4 separate regions of the Homo sapiens genome follow, and all the other regions are linked to region 4. The links come from fine-mapping of genetic effects on plasma protein levels. A gene starts in region 4. Each other region holds a variant in brackets. All regions are shown on one strand. Distances are from middle to middle. Region 1 overlaps IL13RA1 (interleukin 13 receptor subunit alpha 1). Region 2 has its middle 20 kb from the start of ZCCHC12. Region 3 overlaps IL13RA1 (interleukin 13 receptor subunit alpha 1). Region 4 holds the start of IL13RA1 (interleukin 13 receptor subunit alpha 1).

The links. PIP is the posterior inclusion probability: the model's chance that the variant is causal. The UK Biobank Pharma Proteomics Project read protein levels with antibody pairs (Olink). The fine-mapping took linkage between variants from a reference panel, not from the people measured, so its PIPs are less certain.
Region 1: its variant is fine-mapped to the plasma level of the IL13RA1 protein (UK Biobank, PIP above 0.99).
Region 2: its variant is fine-mapped to the plasma level of the IL13RA1 protein (UK Biobank, PIP above 0.99).
Region 3: its variant is fine-mapped to the plasma level of the IL13RA1 protein (UK Biobank, PIP above 0.99). The variant lies in the coding sequence of IL13RA1. If it changes the protein, the assay may bind it differently, which can mimic a change of level.

Annotation. Positions count from the first base shown.
Region 1 is chrX:118,787,077-118,792,076 of GRCh38, forward strand. It overlaps IL13RA1 (interleukin 13 receptor subunit alpha 1), which reads left to right. Exons shown (of 11, transcript NM_001560.3): 11 at 4,686-5,000. The coding sequence ends at 4,778. Among named protein-coding and RNA genes, the nearest start is that of ZCCHC12, 34 kb to the right of the region's middle. The variant A/G (reference allele first, on the strand shown) is at 3,058.
Region 2 is chrX:118,801,279-118,806,588 of GRCh38, forward strand. It overlaps a transcript of IL13RA1 not described here. Among named protein-coding and RNA genes, the nearest start is that of ZCCHC12, 20 kb to the right of the region's middle. The variant G/T (reference allele first, on the strand shown) is at 2,072.
Region 3 is chrX:118,771,281-118,776,280 of GRCh38, forward strand. It overlaps IL13RA1 (interleukin 13 receptor subunit alpha 1), which reads left to right. Exons shown (of 11, transcript NM_001560.3): 9 at 2,599-2,695. It also overlaps the pseudogene TMEM30BP1. Among named protein-coding and RNA genes, the nearest start is that of IL13RA1, 46 kb to the left of the region's middle. The variant C/T (reference allele first, on the strand shown) is at 2,639.
Region 4 is chrX:118,725,144-118,730,463 of GRCh38, forward strand. It overlaps IL13RA1 (interleukin 13 receptor subunit alpha 1), which reads left to right and starts at 2,463. Exons shown (of 11, transcript NM_001560.3): 1 at 2,463-2,583. The coding sequence starts at 2,496. RefSeq lists a silencer at 2,072-2,501.

The DNA of each region.
Region 1 (5,000 bases), 62 kb after region 4:
CATCTTGTTTTGTTGTAGATTTCATCTTGTGTTGGTAGATTTTGGATTTACTTTCCTATTGGGGGAACCAGCCCCCAATATTTCAACGTAAGTTCTTTTCTATTTTCCCTAAGTGTCAGCCGGTCTGATAAATAAAGGGAAAGAGTACAAAAGAGAGAAATTTTAAAGCTGGATGTCTGGGGGAGACATCACATGTCAGCAGGTTCCATGATGCCCCCTAAGCCGTAAAACCAGCAAGTTTTTATTAGCAATTTTCAAAGGGGAGGGAGTGTACGAATAGGGTGTGGGTCACAGAGATCACATGCTTCAAGGGCAACAAAATATCACAAGGCAAATGGGCAGGGCAAGGTCACAAGGCCAGGGCGAAACTAGAATTTCGCCTGGTTCCTGGTCCTGCTGTGCATGCATTGTCATTGATAAACATCAGGAAACAGGGTTTGAGAGCAGACAACCATTCTGACTAAAATTTACTAGGCAGAAATTTCCTAATCCTAATAAGCCTGAGGGTGCTGCAGGAGACTAGGGCGTGTTTCATCTCTATCTATGACTGCATAAGGCAGACACTCCTAGAGCAGCCATTTTAGAGGCCTCCTCCTGGGAATGCATTCTTTTCCCAGGGCTGTTAATTGCTAATATTCCTTACTGGGGAAATAATTCAGTGATATTTCTCGTACCTGTTTTTGGCAATAAGAGAAATATGACTGTCCTGCCCGGCTCCAGGCAGTCAGACCTAATGGTTATCTCCCTTGTTCCCTGAACATTGCTGTTATCCTTTTCTTTTTTCAAGGTGCCCAGATTTCATATTGTTCAAACACACATGCTTTATGAACAATTTGTGCAGTTAATGCAATCATCACAGGGGCCTGAGGCGACATACATCCTCAGTTTATGAAGATGACGGGATTAAGAGATTAAAGTAAAGATAGGCATAGGAAGTTATAAGAGTATTGATTGGGGAAGTGATAAATGTCTATGAAATCTTCACAATTTATGTTCAGAGATTGCAGTAAAGAGAGGCGTAAGAAATTATAAAAGTATTAATTTGGAGAACTAATAAATGTCCATGAAATCTTCACAATTTATATTCTTCTGTCATGACTTCAGCAGGTCCCTCCGTTCGGGGTCCCTGACTTCACGCAACACTTTCCTATTTATATTTCCAACTTGTGTTTTTTTATGGTGATATTTGGGAATATTCAAAAACGATGCTGCTACCACCATCTTCTTCGCAGAATTTTTCTGCAAACTATAGACCAAGGGGCAAATTCTGCCTGCCACTTGTTTTTGTACAGTCTTTAACCTAAGAATGGTTTTTGTGCTTCTAAATAGTTGGGAAAAAAATGTAAGAATACTATTTCATGGCACATGAAATTAAGATTTCAGTGTCATACAGTTTCGTTGGCCAGGCCCATTCATTTATATATTGTCTGTGGCTGCTTTCATGCTACAACAGCAGAGTTGTTTTATAGGCACAGAGACTATATGGCCCCCGAAGCTGAAAATACTTCTTATCTAGCCATTTTCAGGAAAAGTTAGTCAACCCTGGTCCCCTATAATATAGTTTTTAGTGGCTAAATAATATTCCATTGTGTGCACATATTATAATGTACTTAACAAAATTCCTATTGGCATTTGGATGAATCCTAAATTTCATTGTATAGGCATCATTTCACAGCTAAGTATAAGCATATGTATTAATATTTTATTACTGTCTTAGGATAAATTGTTACAAGCCAAATTGCATGATCAAGGGGGAGGGTATATGTATTTTAAACTCTTTGACTGATACAGGCTGAGTATTCCTAATCTGAAAATCTAAAATCCGAAATGCTCCCAAATCTGAAACTTTCTAACATGACGTTCAAAGGAAATGTTCATTGCAACATTTGGAATTTCAGATTTTTGCGTTAGTGATGCTCAGCTGGTAAGTATATAGTGCAAATATTCCAAAAGCTGAAACACTTCTGGTCCCAAGCATTTTGCATAAGGGATATTCTACCTGTATTGACAAATTGTCATCCAGAAAGGTTGTACAAATTAAATTCCCATTAAGGAAACTGGCTAAATAAGTTATGGTGCATTCATGCAATGAAATATTATGTAGAGGTTAAAATGAGGTAGATCACTTTTACTGATGTATAAAAATATAACATACACTGTTAGGTGAAACACCCAGGTTACATATGGAGAGTATGATTCCTTTGTGTTAAGGAAACTGGGGCATTAAAATGCACAAACAAATTTTTTCATAAGAAGCATAGATTACAACTAAGTTGTGCCAGTTCATATACCTACCAGCAGTATGTTCGACTGGTTGTTTGACCATACTTTTGCCAATATGATATTACCTAATTTTAAAATTCTTGCCAAGTTAATAGATGAGAAAAGAGCGTCTTAATTTTACAGTCAGGTTTTGTACTTTTTCCCAAGTTTATTGGCTTGAATTAATTCTTTTGTGAAATTCTTGTTCCACGTCCATTTTTCCTTGTTGTATTCATCTTTTGGTGGTTTGTAAAGCTCTTTACGTATTAGATATTAACCCTCTGGCTTCTTATCCATGTTTTCCTTTGTATTGTATTTAGGGTGATTAATGATGTACAAAAGGTTTTTCCTTTTTTATGCAGTCAAATCTTCCTGTATTTTTAGGTGTAAAGAGCCCTTTCCACCTTAGATTTATATAGTTGTTCCTCTACATATTTTTCTAGTACTTATTTGATTTTTTTTAACATTGAGATCTTTAATCCATCAGGGATTTATTCATGTAGGCTATGAGGTAGGGTTTAGCATTGTTTTCAAATGCTTATATTACCCACTTGTCTTAGTGTCATTTATTAAATAAGCCATTTTTTCAAGGTTATATAATTTTTTCAAATTGTTTTTATTAGAAATCTATACATTTCACATGTTTTAAAATCAAGTTTGAGGTGTAATTTACAATAAAATTTACTCTTTTTTGAGTGTTCAGTTAGAAGAATGTTAGCAAATATATGCAATTTTGTAACCACTGCTCCATTAAAAATATAGAATATTTCCATCATCTCCTAAAAGTTATCTTGT[A/G]GTCCTTTGCAGTCAACCCCCTCTGTTAATCGCCTTGCAAACACTGATCAGTTTTCTGTCCCTAAAGTCTTACAAGATGTCCTATAAATGAAATCACACAGTACATAGCTTTTTGAGTTTGGCTTCTTTTACTCAGCATAATGTGTTTAAGAGACATCCACACTGTGGTGTGTGTCAGTAGTTCATTTCCTTTTATTGCTGAGCAGTATTCTATAATATGGTTGTAACCACAGTTTATTTAACCATTCACTTGTTCAAGGACATCAGAGTTGTATCTAGTTTTTAATCTATTATTAGTGAAAATGCTATAAACATTCATGTAGAAGTCTTTGTGTGACATGTTTTCATTTCTCTTGGGTAAATACCTGGGAGTGGGATTTCTGGGTCATGTGGTAAGTGTATGTGTTATTTTATAACCAAGTGTCAGACTGTTTTCCATAATGATTGCACTATCTTATTTTTACCAACAATACATAGAGATCTAGTTTCTCTGCGTTCTTATGAGCGCTTGGAATTGTCGGTATTTTTAATTTTAGCCATTCTAGTAGGTGTGTCAGGGTTATATAATTTGTTTAGAATAATTTGCATATTTTGAGCAGTGTTTCCCAACTCATCCCCTCATCTCTTAACTTGCCCAGTCCATCTTCAGTTGCACAACCTGAGGCAGCTCTTGTTTCTGTTTTTCTTCTTTCCATTTCTTTTCTAAGAACATCTGTGCAGAAAACGAGCTTAGACATAACCTAATGCAGGGTTTGGTAGACTTTTTTCTGTAAAGGGCCAGATAATAAATGATTTTGTTTTTGCAAGCCATTCAGTCTCTGTCACAACTCAACTCTGCCATTATAACATGAATGCAGGTGAAGGCAATATGAAACAAAGACCAGCATTCAGCCGGATTTGACCTGTGGACCATAGTTTGCTGACCCCTGGTTTAGTATAACAACTTTATTTTACAGATGAGAGGACCGAGCTCATGTTTCACCCTTTCCTCTGATTTACAAGTAAAAGTAAAAAAAAGGCAAGGACCAGGATATTGGCTTTTACCATAAGAGACATGCTTGAATTGGGTTCAAGATAAGTGTGCTTTATGTGTAATTTCCTGTTCTAGCAAATGATGTTAGATGAAGCTCTTAATATAGGGTCTTTCGGCAATTTCGATTGCAGTAAGACTTTAGGAACATCTTATGTTTTACCATTCATCTCAATGCTACTTGACTTTTTGAACCTATTATGTCTCTGGAGCAATGAGCATTAAGAAAATAAAGGTAATAAAGGTCTCAGCAAAACAGTTGGAGTAAGAACGGCATGACATCCTTTTATTCTTCTTAATAGATTTTATTTCCAGTGGTGGAAATGTCCAAATTTGTTTATTTCTGGAGATAGTCATTGTACATCATGTAACTATCTCATGATTCCCACCTCCATTTAATATTAATTCCTGATTGTTCTGTTTCATTAATCATTCAGATAGATAAAGATTCTTAGGTCAAAAAAAAAAAAAAAACAGGAAATCATACCCCTACGGTTCCATCCACACAAACCTAAAAATAAGCATTGGCACTAAGTACTCAGGGAAAGAACACTGTTTAGATATGTCATTGTGTATGTGTTTTTTTCCTCCCTTCTAGCACTGGAAGAAGTACGACATCTATGAGAAGCAAACCAAGGAGGAAACCGACTCTGTAGTGCTGATAGAAAACCTGAAGAAAGCCTCTCAGTGATGGAGATAATTTATTTTTACCTTCACTGTGACCTTGAGAAGATTCTTCCCATTCTCCATTTGTTATCTGGGAACTTATTAAATGGAAACTGAAACTACTGCACCATTTAAAAACAGGCAGCTCATAAGAGCCACAGGTCTTTATGTTGAGTCGCGCACCGAAAAACTAAAAATAATGGGCGCTTTGGAGAAGAGTGTGGAGTCATTCTCATTGAATTATAAA
Region 2 (5,310 bases), 76 kb after region 4:
TATCTGCAAGGTTTTCTCTTGGCCTCTTTTCTCTTGGTGTTTTAAATTTTAATGATATGCCTTATTGTGGATCTTCTTCCATTTACTGGGCTGGACTTTGTGAGCCCTTTCAATCTAAAATCTCATGCTTCATTTTTAAGACATTGCTTTCTATTATTTCTCACACAATAGCTTCCCTTGTGTTTTCTTTATCTCTAGGATTCCTATTAGTTGTACATTGGACATCCTGGACTGATTCTGTAATTTTCGTATCTTTTTTCTCCCATGTTCCCTTTATTTGTCTTTTGGTTCTGCTTTTTGGGAGATTTTCTTAACTTGATCTACCTGAGGCTCAGTCCTCATCTGTAAAATGCTGATAAAAGGACCTACCACCTAGCGTTGCTGTGAGGTGTCAGTGAAATAAAATGTAAAATGCTTAGCACAGTGAACTTTAATAAATGGTAGTTGTGGTTGCACATACTGTTATTCTGGAACCAATTTCTTGTCCCTCCTCATGTGAAAATGACAATCTTGGTTTACAATATCATACTATAATATTTGCCTTCATTGTAGTGAATTTGTAATGACATGGCATTTTCCAATTATACTGTTTTTAGAAAAAAATTCTATGGTATAAATCCAGTTAGCAACATTAATTCTTATTTATGCTTCTACAAACACTTAAAAGTATTTTTTTTCTTTTTTCTTTTCTTTTTTCCACTCTCCCCTCATCCCTGGGGTAGATGAGAACTGGAAAAATAATGCTGGGTATCCACTCCCTGACAGTGAAATAGGTAGTTTGGAGCCCCAATTAATTACTTTGTTAGGATGAGAGTGCAGATCAAACCTTTAACATGTGAGGGTTGCCGTACACTCTGCCTGCTATGCAGCCCCAAATAAGGCTGGCCAGTACCTAGGAGCACTGAGGAGGCTAATGGACAATTAACAAACATCGAGTCCAGAGGAGGCCTGGATTCTCTGTAAGCTTTGCAGCCAAAGGTGGCCCTGCCTGCCCACTTAGGGCCCCATGAAGACTAGAACTAGAATTACAGAAAAAGAATGTCTGCAAGTCAAGAACAATCTGGCTTTACTACTTTATTTTCATTCCTTCATCTGTTCAGTTGGGGGGCGATGTTAAAGCTATGTGACATGGGCACCAACCAGTCAGGTCAGATGCTGGCTATAATTACTTGGTAGGTTATGTATCAACCCTGGATTCAACAGATATTTATTGAGTGTCTACCATGTGCCAGCACTGTGCTAGCTAGGTACTGTATGATGCAGGGCAAGTTTCTTTCTTTCTCTGAGCTTCAGTTTGCTCACTTGTGAAAAAAAAGGAGTAAGTGATCTACAAGGGCTCCTTTAGGTCTAACATTCGCAATCAATAAAATAGTAACTTTTGATTGTTTTGGGAAAATAATGGAAACAGCTATAGAAAACAAGCAGCTGACCTAAGACTTGTAGATTTGAAAATGGGGGAAAAAACAGAAAATTATTCTGAGTTATTGTTTGACTTGAGATTTGGATTAAGAATCAGTTCTACATGTCTTATTTTCATGATGTTTCCAAAGGGAGACAAAGATAGCTCTAATCAAAGGGTGAGTTTGTTTTACAGCCTTGAACATTCAAGCTCCACCCCACTATCCCCCACCAACATGCATATACAAGACACCTTCCCCCTAAGGAGGCTACTACTTTCTTTTAGCATCCTCTCTCCAGCTGCTACACTTCAAACCCTTTCGTTCAGTGGTTGGCAATAGCTTGTCCACTCTGGCAAGAGTCCATGTTCCAAGCCTTTCTTAACTTCCTCTTTTCAGACTTGTCCTGCCTCATTTCCTGTTCCTTGTGGCCTCTGCCTCATAAGATGTTTGATCAATTCATCTTTGCTAATGTAGCCAAGGAGGGCTAAGAAGTTTGTGGGTTACCATTTCTGGATAAAATTCATATTACAAGGAGCCTCCCCAAACCATGCTACCACTTTTATGGTGGATTAAAAAAATATTATGGGAAAGTTCAAACATATATAGAAGTAAGGAGACTGTTACAGTGAATGGTCATATACCCATCAACTAGCTTCAACAATTATCAAAAT[G/T]GTCAATCTTATTTCATTTATACTGCCACCCATTTCCTACTTCCTACATGACGAATTATTTTTAAGCAAGTCCCAGACATCACATCATTTCATCTGTAAATACTTTAGTATATATCTCTACAAACTAAGGACCCTTTTTGTTTTAAAAAACTGCAATACCATTATCACACTTTAAAACTAAACAATAATTGCTTAATATTCTCAATTATCTAGTCAGTGTTTACATTTCCCCAATTGTCTCATAAGTCTTTTTTTCCTACAATTTGCTTGAATCAGGATCCAATAAGGCTCACGGTGATTTTTTAAATAATGATGCTTTGTAATATACAGGGGTGAGAATTTGGGAACAAATGATTGTTTGGCCTTTAAAATCGTACTACATTGGCATTTAGGAATGAATACAGCCCTGCTGCCACAAAGTAGCTCTTTTTCCCTTCCAGATTGCTTTGACTAAAAATTTGTTTAGCATCCCATTGGATTCTGGAAATTCTTCTTGTTTTCTCTTTTCCTTCCTTCCTTCCTTCCTTCCTTCCTTCCTTCCTTCCTTCCTTCCTTCCTTCCTTCCTTCCTTCCTCTCTCTCTTTTTTTTCTTTTTTCTTTCTTTCTTTCTTTCTTTTTTTTTTTTTGACAGAGTTTTGCTCTTGTTGCCCAGGCTGGAGTGCAATGGTGCGATCTCGGCTCGCTGCAACCTCTGCCTCCTGGGTTCAAGTGATTCTCCTGCCTCAACCTCTCAAGTAGCTGGGATTACAGGCGCCCGCCACCACGCCTGGCTAATTTTTGTATTTTTAGTAGAGACGGGGTTTCACCGCGTTAGCCAGGCTGGTCTCGAACTCCTGACCTCAAGTGATCCACTTGCATCAGCCTCCCAAAGTGCTGGGATTACAGGCGTCAGCCACAGTGCCCAACAAATTCTGGAAATTCTTTATAAGCGTAGTCAGACATCTGTGAAGGAAGTGAAAACTGAAGTTTGGCCTTGAAGCTTAGAAGTTCTCACACAACCAAGACATAGTCTTCCTTAAAACAGAAAAAAAACACAGCCATGCATACACACACACACACACACACACACACACACACACACACACAAATGCCAACTTCTAATATGTCTACGGAATGTTTTTGCAAATGGTAGTACAGAGCATATCTGTGTTGTGTAATTTTTTCCCACATGATAAGGACCAATATAAACAAATTGGAAATGTGATACTAAAAGAGAGTACTTCAGCATGGATTAATTAAGACCAATATGGGGCAATCCTTTTCTGATATTTTACAATGCACTGAAAATTTTAAAGCAAGGTGGAAAAATAGGCTTATGGGTCTGAATGTTAGGTTGAGAAAAATTATCTGTGGTCAAGTGTGTGCTTTGTAAATCTGCTGAGTTTACACTTGATCATGCAGTTTTCTATAAGTTGCTGGCTTGAATACCACTGGGAAATATACAGACCATGTGACTATGAAACCAACCCAATTGTCCCACAGAGCTGATGTTTCTGATCTCTTTGAATAAACATAGAAATTGATCCTTCCAGTCTTAAAACTTGAGAAAGTTACATTTGTCTTATCTGAATTCCTTTCTCAGGAAACAAACCATCAGGCCTCCCAGAAAGTATCCGGGATCTGAAAATCACCAAATCACCACATCCGGACAGTGAGAAGCCAGATCCCTCACCCTTCTTGATTGGCTGACAAACCAACTGCTTCCTGTTGACCAACTCCTCTTCCTTATCCCTCCCTAATTCCTGTTTTCCCACACATGGTTTCACTTCTTCCCTGCTATACAAACACCTAATTTTAGTTGGTCAGGGAGATGGAATTGAGACTGATCTCTTGTCTCCTTGGCTGCTGCACCTGATTAAAGCCTTCTTCCTTGGCAATACTCATTGTCTCAGTGTTTGCCTTTCTGTGCAGTGAGAAAACAGGACCTAGATGGAACTCCTGCTGTTTTGGTAACATTACTACAGACCTCTCAGAATGGCTAAAATAAAAATAATGACAACACCTCAATAATAGTAAGGATGCAAAGAAATCATATCACTCATATATTTCTTGTGGGTACATAAAATGGTACAGCTACTCTGAGAAAGAGTGGCAGTTTGTTTAAAAACGAAACATGCAACTATCACATGGTCCAGCAATTGTACTGTTGGGCCTCTATCCCAGAAAAATAAAAACATATGTTCACACAACAAACTTTACATAAATGTTTATAATGGTTTTATTCATAATTTACAAAAACTAGAAAAACTCAGATATCCTTCAATGGGTGGGTGAATGGTTGAACAATTTTTGGTACAGTCACATCATGGAATACTACTTAGCAATAAAAGTGAATGAATATCACCTCACGCTCATTAGAATGGCCACTATAAAAAAAAACCCATAAAATAGAAAGTGTTGGTGTGGATGTGGGGAAATGAGAATCCTTGTGTGCTATTTGTGGGATTGTGAAATGGTGCAACAGCCATGGAAAACAGAATGGTAGTTCTTCAAAAAGTTAGAAATAGATCTACCTAGGCTGGGTGCGGTGGCTTACGCCTGTAGTCCCAGCACGTTGGGAGGCCGAGGTGGGCAGATCAACTGAGGTTGGGAGTTCCAGACCAGCCTGACCAACATGGAGAAACCCCGTCTCTACTAAAAATACAAAAATTAGCCGGGCGTAGTGGTGGGCACCTGTAATCCCAGCTACTCGGGAGGCTGAGGCAGGAGAATTGCTTGAACCTGGGAGGCAGAGGTTGCGGTGAGCTGAGATCGTGCCATTGCACTCCAGCCTGGGCAACAAGAGTGAAACTCCGTCTCAAAAAAAAAAAAGAAAAAAAGAAAAAAAAAAGAAAAAAGAAAAAGAAATAGATCTACCATATGACTCAGCAATCCCACTTCTGGGTATTTATGCAAAAGCATTAAAAGCAGGGTCTTGGGATATTTGCACACCCATATTCATAGCAGCAGTATTGAAACATGGAGTCTGGGAGCAGCATTCCTATGATCAGTGTCTATGCTATTCCACTTTGTGCTTTTATTAATTCATTCAAGAAGGCTTTTGACGAATATAGATCGTGTACGAGATGCTGTAGTAGATTCAAAGAATAGAGCATGCTTTCTTTTCTTTTTTAAAAAATTGAGATGGTGTCTCACTATTTTGCCCAGGCTAGTCTCAAACTCCTGGGCTCAGGTGATCCTCTTGCCTGCCAAGTAGCTGGGACTACAGGTGCAGTGCATACTTTCTGTCCTATTATTGC
Region 3 (5,000 bases), 46 kb after region 4:
ACAGTACAGTGGTTTTCTTTTCTTTGTGGGGAGGGTGGGTTGGGATGGAGAGTGAGACCCACAAATTATCTGCAGAGGCATGGAGGGGTGTGGGAGAACATATTTGTTAAATATGCAGATAGATGAGGAGGCACCAACCCCAGAGATTCTGACACAGTAATGCTGGGGTGAGATGCTTGAAACTGTGTTTTAACAAACTCCTCTGGAGATTCCTGTATTCTCTCAAATTTGGAAATCACTACCCTGAACCTGGTTGGGCCTGAAGCAGTCACCTGAGTCCAGTTTTTCAGATAGTAATTTGTTCCCAGGGACAGTGACACCATAATGTTGCAGGTTTGGTCTGGCACTCTGCCTTAAATATAGTATGCTCTAATGACTTGTGGAATGAATTTTTAAAAAATCACTATCTCTGGGCTGGGCGCCATGGCTCATGCCTATAATCCCATCACTTTGGGAGGCTGAGGCGGGTGGATCACTTGAGGTCAGGAGTACAAGACCACTCTGGCCAACATGGTGAAACCCTCTCTCTACTGAAATATAAAAATAAGCTGGGCATGGTGGCAGATGCCTGTAGTTCTAGCTCCCGGGAGGCTGAGGCAGGAGAATCGCTTGAACCCGGGAGGCGGAGGTTGCATTGAGTCGAGATCGTGCCACTGCACTCCAGCCTGGGTGACAGAGTGAGACTCTGTCTCAAAAAAATTAAATTAAAAAAAATCACTATCTCTGGAAAACTAGTTGGTGTACAGATTTGTAGGCCAGGGTTTGTGTCGATTTATTTGATATTTTAGTATAACAGCAAACAGGCAAACTTTACCAGATACTGTGTAGAAATTTGAAAATGTGAGGCCAGTTTGTACAGTTCAGAGGGAATGCTTTTTAACTGTAGAATCAGATAGCTGGAAGGGATCTTTGAGGGAAAGTAATTTCCCTAGTCACATCTATGTCTCCTGGCTCAGTCTTCTTTGTCATTTAATCTGTGTGTGTGGGTGTGTGCGTGCGCACACGTGCGTACTTACAAAGGGCTTCATTCATACCTTTTCTCTTGGATCTGGAAAAAATTTTTTTATGTTTTCCAATGAGATACATTTGTAGTAATCATATTTGAAACAATGCTAAGGTATATATAGTCTTATATGTAAACTAGAATCTTAACATTATTTGAATCTTGGAGATAATGTTAAAAGTCTTAGCTAAAATGATTCCATTGATTTTATCGATTGACTAACATCAATCAATATGTTTAAAGTTATTCTAAGAAGCAATATTTTTATTTAAAAAAACCTTTCTTTCATGGCAAAATAGCTTAAAAGAACTTTAAAAAAAAACCCTATGTGATATGTTCCAGTTTATTTGCTAAAAGCAAACAGTTATTTGGTATTTGTCAGACAGAATTCTTCAGTACCTGCTTTCTATTATAGCTATTTTCCAGTTACCACTCATTCGTTTATACTCCTTCCTTTAAAGCAGCACAAGATCTTGAAGTTTTTTTTTTATCAGTTAAGAAATATTGGATTGTATTGGATAGTATACATAGTTTAGTCTGTTAGTTCTCTGAAAGTTACTGAACAATGGACAATGTGCATGTCACTGACATCCGTCTCAGATCTTCTGGGACAACTATGATTTAAGAGATTCTATCTCATTATTACAGATACCAAAAAAATACTTGGGTAATTCCAGTGTGTTGGCTTTCCAACTCCTGAACACTACACAATTTTATTATCAGTTTTTGTATGGTGATTTTAGGCTATGAAAACATTATTTTATGTACATAGAGAAATTTTTATTATGAATGTTTGAGCTCACTAGCCCAGCCCTCCTCTATTTTGAAAAAGAGAGTTTACTACATTTTTTACTATGTAGTTGAAAACAACATGTATTTTGTCATTTTTAGAATGGTCAGTCTATTTCTATAAAATTTTAAATGTGGCTGGGCGCAGTGGCTCATGCCTGTAATCCCAGCAATTTGTGAGGCTGAGGCGGACAGAACACTTGAGGTCAAGAGTTTAAGACCAGCCTGGCCCAAATAGGGAAACCCCGTCTCTACTAAAAATACAAAAATTAACTCGGTGTGGTGGTGTGCGCCTGTAGTCCCAGCTACTCAGGAGGCTGAGGCAGGAGAATCTCTTGAAACATGGAGGCGGAGGTTGCAGTGAGCCAAGATCGTGCTATTGCACTCCAGCCTGGGTGACAGAGTGAGAGACTCTGTCTCAAAACAAACAAACAAACAAAAGTTTAAATGAGACCATCAAATTTAAGGGATTCTGATCCAGATTAAATTAATGAATATGGTTCCAGGTCCTAGTCTCTGAGTTTTTGAAAGAGAATAAAGCTTATGTTTGTCTTTTAAAAAATATCCTAATTTCAGGTAATCTTTTAGGTATTTGCTCGCCTAGGGAAGTTCAGGCACCAGAGGAGGACTTTTTTTTTTTAAACTATTAATTTAACAGAAGATAAGATAATTGAAGAGCTTGGGAAAATAGGTTGGGGGAGGGAGCAGAAATATTTGTGATCTTACTAGCTAACAGAATTGCTGCTTGGTTTATTACTAAAAGGGTTTTATTTCTCAAGTCTTTCTGTTTGCTTTTCATTCTCCAGGTAAGAAGCGCAATTCCACACTCTACATAACCATGTTACT[C/T]ATTGTTCCAGTCATCGTCGCAGGTGCAATCATAGTACTCCTGCTTTACCTAAAAAGGTAAGGTAGCTGCCCAGGCAGGTTTTGCAGTTTCTGATAGCCTGTTTGCTGTGGTTATTACTTTTAGTGCTTGTGTTTTATGTCTGCCCAGTGTATTAGAAGCATGTTGCCTGTAAGTGGCTTTCGGGAGTATGACATGACAAGGAAGTATTACCACGCCCACTTTCTTTTCTTTTCTTTTTTTTTTTTTTTTCCTGAGATGGAGTCTCTGTTGCCCAGGCTGGAGCGCAGTGGTGTGATCTCGGCTCACTGCAGCCTCCACCTCCTGGGTTCAAGCAATTCTCCTGCCTCAGCCTCCCGAGTAGCTGCGATTACAGGTGCCCACCACCACGCCCGGCTAATTTTTTGTATTTTTAGTAGACAGGGTTTCACCATGTTGGCCAGGCTCGTCTCAAACTCCTGACCTCAAGTGATCCACCCTCCTCAGCCTCCCAAAGTGCTGGGATTATAGGCATGAGCCACTGCACCCAGCCGCTATGCCCACTTTCTAATGAAAACCATGTTGGATTAGTTTTCCAGGGCTCCCTGCTCAAGCACTGCTGCCTTTGCATGTGTTTAGGATTGTTGAATAGGTCCTATGTTCACATAATACTCTTTCAAATGCCTAATCTATCAAGTTAGTCAGTAGTTCTTAGAATGAAGTTTTAGAAATGGAGACCTTTACTAATAAAATGACTTGTCTGGTATTAATGCAAAGTAGGCTACTACTTAATATTGTGGGAAAGAGAACTTCATCAAGTTGTCATGAATGTATGGTATCCATTCCTTGAGAATATTTTATTTTCTCTATCTCATTATAGGACTGTTATTTGCTCTTGTAGTAAATAACTAAGGTTGAAATAAGGTTATTAAGTTGGATCCAGAACCAATATTTTATCATTATTTCAACATTTATTCAACATATATATATACTCTCTCTATATATGTATATTTTTTGAGTGCCTATTTGTGAACCAGGTACTGTTCTAAGTGCTAAAGTTACAGCAGTGAACAGGACAAAGTCCTCATCTACATTCTAGAGGGAAAGATACACACATGCACATACACACACACACACAAAATAAATAATAAATACTATAATTTCACTTAGAAGTATAATTGACAGTAGTGGGGTATGGCTAGGAGGTGATAGGAGGTGCATTTTATGTAGGATGTCACCAAGAAAGTGACATTTGAGGAGAGACTCCCAGTAATGTAAAGGAGTGAATCATTCAGATATTCGAGGAAAGAGCACTCCAGGCCATGGGAACAGCAAATGCAAAGTCCCCAAGGCTGAAATGCACTTGGTTTGTTTGGCTGGAGTGGAGAGTGCAGGGTAGAGAGTGGCAGCGAGGGAGGACAGAGGTTGGCCAACCACATCACGCAGGCCATGGCAAGGAACTGAGATTTTATTCTAAGCATGATGAGGAGCATTGGAGAGTTTTGAGCAGAGTAGGCACATGGTCTGAGTTACTGTCATAAAGGATTATTGTAGTTGCTGAGTGAAGAACTGACTTGGGCAAAAGTGGAAGCCGATGGAGTAGTTCGGAGGCATTGCAGTGTTTTGGCAGAAAGATGAGGATAACCTATACTAGGGGGTTAGCAATGGAGATAGCAAGAAGTGGTCAGAAATAGTATATATTTTGAGAGTAGAATTGATAAGACTTGCTGTTAGTTGCCTGTCTGTGGAGGTGTGAAGGTAATTAAGGATTCAGAGATACCTCTTAGATTTTTGGCTTGAGCAACTGAGTGAATGCTGGTGCCATGTACTGAGACAGAGAAGGCTGTGAGGAGAGCTGGGTTTGAGGGAAAGATAAGGACTTCAGTTTTGCATATGTTAAGTTTGAGATGCTTATTAGATATCCAAATAAGGATGTTAAATAAGCGATTTTGTGCATGAATCTGGAGTTGAAGGGAGAGGTCTGGGCTGAAGATCTAATTTTGGGAATCCTCGGCATGTGAATGGATTTAAAGCCTAAAGACCGAAAGGAGTGCTCATAAAGTGAATGAGATAGACAAGAAGACAAAAAACTGAATCCTGGGGCACATCCATGGACACTCACTGGGAGATGGAGGCAAGCTATAAGATTGAAAAATGGAGAGAAGTAGGAAGGAAAAAGAAACAGAGGAATGTATCCTGTTCTCAGATTATTCTTTTCAAAATTATACAGAGCAAGCGCCCATCTGGTCTGTTAAAAGTAGAGTAGCATATTATTTAGATGATAGGGTATAAGTAATTCATTTATTCTGATGGTCCCTGTGCTCCACCTATGGGCAAGAGTAGAACTTAATGCCCTTAGAACATTGATTTTTGTGTACCCTATTT
Region 4 (5,320 bases):
CACGGAGATTACAAATACAAGTTTTATGTTGAAGAAACAGCATTCCTGACTCTTTCCACCCCCTTCCAAAAATTTGAAAAATCGTTGCATGATGTTCAGGGTCGGGAAGAAAGGAAAGTAACAATATAGTCTTAAGGCCAGCAGGCCGGAACTATCTTGGTGAAAAGAAATCAGGTCTCTCCCCTCTCCACACTGCCGTTTGTTTTTTTTCCTCACGATGTTCAGATTCTCAGGGCTTTTCTGGAAGCTCATGACAAGCTGCAATCCCTATTTTTCTAATCATTTGCTACCATTACTGTTTTATTAAGCGCTTGGTCAATCTATGCCAAGCAGTGCCCATGATGGCACTCAGCCAGTCCCCAGGGGCTCCTGTTCCAACTAAAGACTCCTTAAAAGGCAGATGACATAACCATTTTGGAAACGTTATTATAAACTTATTGTATAATGTTTATAGCAAATGTCAACAAGTGTATATGTCCGTGGTGGTGGAGGAAAGGCCTTGGGATACACAGTGGCTGACCTATTTGTGGGAGGGATTTAGAAATAATGATACTATCTCTCAGTTCTACAGGCCTTGATACTTTACAAACTGTTTTCATAAACATTATTTTGTTCGATAACACATGCAAGCCAGGATTTATTTTTTTTTTTTTTGAGAACGGGGTCTCACTCTGTTACAGACCCAGGCTGGTTTTGAACTCCTGGGCTCAGGTGATCCTTCCACCTCAGCCTCCAGAATAGCTGGGATTACAGGTGCATGCCACCATGCCTGGATTCTGGAATTTATTCTGAACCGTTAGCCAAAAGAATCAACATCCTGAGATTCAGCACAGGCAGGCCCTCCTCCTGGAAGCTTCCCTTGCTCCTTCCCTCCCAAAAGGTACCCTTTTTGTATCCCATAATTCCTTGTTCTTGCCCTTATCATTGCCCCTCAGACTGACTGCAGCTTTCTGTTAGCAGAGCTTGCTTTTGGTGAGTGTCTTCAACAGTTCCTGGAACAATTTCATAAATATTTATTGAGTTTGAGAGCCTTAATTCCAAGAGTGGAACCTTTGTTGTGAATAGGTTAAACAACCCTGTGCCCTTTGGGTGGGGTCTAGACTAGGTATATTATCAGCATTTTTATTGCTATACTTTTTGTAACTGTTTTCAGGTATATGCATTGGCTTAATTCGGCCAAAATACACCTCATTATGGGTCTCATCATCCACCTAGACATGATTCTTTTTTGGGAGAAGGTGATAGAATAATGTCCCCCTCCCATGATTCCATATCGTGATCCCCAACACCTGTGAATATGTTAACTTACATAGCAAAAATGACTTTTCAGTTATGATTAAATCAAGGATTTTGAGATGGGGAGATTATTATGAATTATCTGGTGGACCTAATCTAATCACAAGGGTATTTATAAGGGAAAAGGGGAAGTAAGAGGGTCAGAGTCAGATACGACAAGGGAAGCAGAGGTCTGAGTAGTTCCGCAACAAGCCAAGGAATGTGGGTAGCCTCTAGAAGCTGGAAAAGTCAAAGACACAGATTCTCCCCTAGAATATCCAGAAGGAATACATCTCTGCCCACACCTTGATTTAAGCTCAGTGTCACTTCTGACCTCCAGAACTGTAATAAAATAAAACTGTTAAATCACTAAATTTGTGGTCATTTTTGACAGCAGCAACAGGAAACGCCTAAGGACTCTTGTTTTCCTTCCTCCCAGCCTCACTGACCCTCATAGGCGCCCAAGTATCAATGTGTATTCTTCCGATTCACCTCCCATCCCTTTGAAAAATATGTAGAAAGTTTGTCGTGTGCTTTAAAAAATGCACGTATGGTATCCTCCCTCATGTTTGGAATGTTCCTTTTAAAATCAACATTATGTATTGCCAGCTTTCAAATATGCCCTTTGTCCTTTTCACAAAGCACAGTACTGCCAGTGTCCCCAACTCCACCCAGTGAAGTAGGGCTGGTATTACTAACCCTGGAGTCAGCGCTAGCAAACAAGGGCTCAGAGGTCAAGGGCTGGAAGCCAGGTCTCCAGACTCCCAGGCCAAGGCTCTTTTCCGCAGATGACTCTGTCCTGGTGTCCAGCAGGGCACAGCCCCTAGCACCTCCGAGGCCCCGCAAGTGTGCTGGCAGCGGCGACGCCGGCTCCGCCACGCGGAGGGAGGAGGCCCAGGCAGCGCCCGGAGTGGGCGGCGACGTGGTGGAAGAAGTTTTGTTCGGTCAGAGACCGGACGCGGGAGCTGCGGGTGGGCCAGGTGTCCAGCCTTGGGAGCCGTAGGAGCCGCCAGAGCCGCCAGAGCCGCCGGCGCCCCGCCCCGCCTCCTCCGGCCGCTCTCGCCGGCTCAGGTTACCTGAGGCCGGTGGGCGGGGCGGCCCTTCCCGTCTGCGCCGGCCCCCAGCCTCCAGGGCGGCGGAGCCGGGAAGTGGAAGAGGGAGCGAAGGAGGCGGGGACTGCCAAGGCTCCAGCCCGGCCGGGCTCCGAGGCGAGAGGCTGCATGGAGTGGCCGGCGCGGCTCTGCGGGCTGTGGGCGCTGCTGCTCTGCGCCGGCGGCGGGGGCGGGGGCGGGGGCGCCGCGCCTACGGGTGAGTGCGACCCTCGGGGCCCGAGGGGCGGCCGGAGGGCTGAGGGCGGTGAGGGTCACGGCTGAAAGGCCCCGGAGGTCAACGCCGGGCGGAGGGCCGAAGCTGGGGTGGGTGCTGGGGGCTGCCCTCGCGAGGCCCCGCGCTCGGCGGCTGCGGCTTCCCGCGCGGGATCTCTGGGGCCCGGTACTGGGGCCGGTTCGAGGTGGGACCCGGGAGCTGCGGGGTTTTCCCGAACTCCGGGTGCGGCGGAGGTGGCGGCAGCGAAGTAAGAGGGCTGCGACTTGTAGTGGGAAGAGCCCAGGAGGCTGGCGTCCAGGCGTGCGGGGGCGGGGGGCCCGAAACATGCCCACGGCGTCAGAGGGCCGTGGGTCAGCGCCCGGAATGTCGCCTGTGAGCCCGGGAGGAAATGAGGCGCCAGAGCCGGCGGGGACCACGACCGAAGTCCAGGCGAGCTGAGAACGCGCCGGGGCTCTTTGCCCGAGGCCGCGCCAATCCTCACTGTCTAAGGGTGGCTCTTGCGAGTGGAAGTTGAAGGGAACCTCTAAACATCTCAGTCCTTGTTGAAAAAGGACGTGACGCTCATGACCTCCTCTGGCGTCGAAGAAATCCTTTGGGAAATCCAGAATAGCATCCCGGCAGATGCTCCCCCCACCCCACTCTCTTTAATAAACCTTATATTTTAGGGTAATTGTAGATTTATGGAAAAGTTGCAAAGATACTTCAGAGAGTTGTGTATATCCCTCACCCTGTTTGGTAACTTCTAGTTAATCAACCTGGCAGTTGTGAAAAATTGGGAGTTAATGACTTCCTTAGGAGCAGCTCCTGGAAGGAATGGCCTTCTGGACGTTTTTGGTGACAATGAAAGCCCCAAACTGTATAGGTTTTATTATCACATTGACACAAACACTTATATATGCTTATTGCATTTTTACCAATGTGCTTTGAAATCCAAGTTGAAATGTTGATTAGGAAACCTTAATGCCCTCTATGGATTCAGTCAATAAAATACATGCTGCCAGGCAGTGTTTAGGGGCTGAGGATGCAGCAGTGAGCAAAACAGATGAGGTGCCTGCCCTCAGACATATCGGGGGGTGGGGGTAAAATATATGATATGTCTGAGGGTGTTAAGTAGAGAAAAACAGAGCAGGTGGGAAGGGGTTTGCCATTGTAAAAAGGGTGGATCGAGAAGAAAACAAATGTTGCTGAAAGGTGGCATTTGAGTAGAGACCTGAGGGAGACTTGAAGCTTGTCAGTCAATAATTATTCAGGTGTCTGCCTTATTTAGTACTGAGTCAGGCCCTCTAGGTTGACTTAGAACCTGAGAGTGTATAGCAAAATTCTTGCCCCAAAAGGGCCTCTAGTTTAGTTGGGTACACCTGATTTCCGTAATCATATGGGGACATTGCAGTCCAGAGAAGGGAAGGAACTTGTCTAAAGTTACCCGTCTCATTAGTCTCCTGATTTTCACAGTGCCACTCCAGCACCCTCCCTCCTACAGACTCACTCCCACACACACCTGAAACAACAGCTGGCCATCTAGAGAATACTGGCAACTCCCAACTTCATCAGTCCTGTCACAATGGTTTGTCGTTAGCTTGCTTATTTAGAAAACAAACTTCTTTCCCCATTAAAAGTATTGATAGAATTGCATTGAGGTATGGTGGGAAAAAATTAGATGTTTCCAGTGAGACTTGAGTTTTAGTGGTTCTGATATTTACCACCTGTGGGACTCTGGGCTGGTCATTTCCTCTCTTTTGTGCTGCAGTTAGTTTTCTCATCTGTGAAATGAGGAGGTTGAACTGCATAAATTCTAAGAGCTCCTCCAGCTCTAATCCTCAGAGTGTTTATAAAAGTGATTAGATTACTAGCTTAGTTTAACCTGTCCCACTCAATGGCCCACATTGTGGCATGTCTTAATTATAACTAGCATGTATATAGCATTTATGCCCAGCAGTTTTCTAGCTGCTTTACTTGTACTATTTCATTTAATCTTTACCAATAATATAACTTGTAGGTGCTGTTATTAGTCCCATTTTGTACACGAAAAAGTTGAGGCACAGTGCGACCAAGACCCTTGCCCAAATTCGCATACCTGGCAAAGTGGAAGAGCTAGGTTTCCAACCCTGGCAGCCTGATTCCAGAGGCCATGCCCTTAACCACTGTACTCATTGCTTCTGCCCAGCAGAAAAGACGAGAGTCCTTAGCTGGACACCTCCCAGGGTAGCAGGGCAGGACGGCTTGGGACCCACGAAAGTATGTGCAAGCCATTTGTTAAGAAGCTAATGATACTATATTAGGCCGGGTGCAGTGGCTCATGCCTGTAATCCCAGCACTTTAGGAGACTGAGGCAGATGGATCACTTGAGGCCAGGAGTTTGAGCCTGGCCAACATGGCAAAACCCCGTCTACTAAAAATACAAAAATTAGCCGAGTGTGGGATTACATGCCTGTAATCCCAGCTACTCAGGAAGCTGAGGCATGAGACTCATTTGATCCTGGGAGGCAGAGGTTGCAGTGAGGGAAGATCAGGCCACTGCACTTCAGCCTGGGCGACAGAGCAAGACTGTCTCAAAACAAAAAAAGAAGCGAATGATACTACATTGGAGACTGGCTTTATAGTGGCTGGGCTGTGTGGTCCAAACAACTAGTACTATAGGCATTCAAAAGAGAAAAAGCTGACGGTTGGTAGTGTTATGGAAGAGGTAAAACTTGAGCTAGATCTTCTGGATGACTGGGAT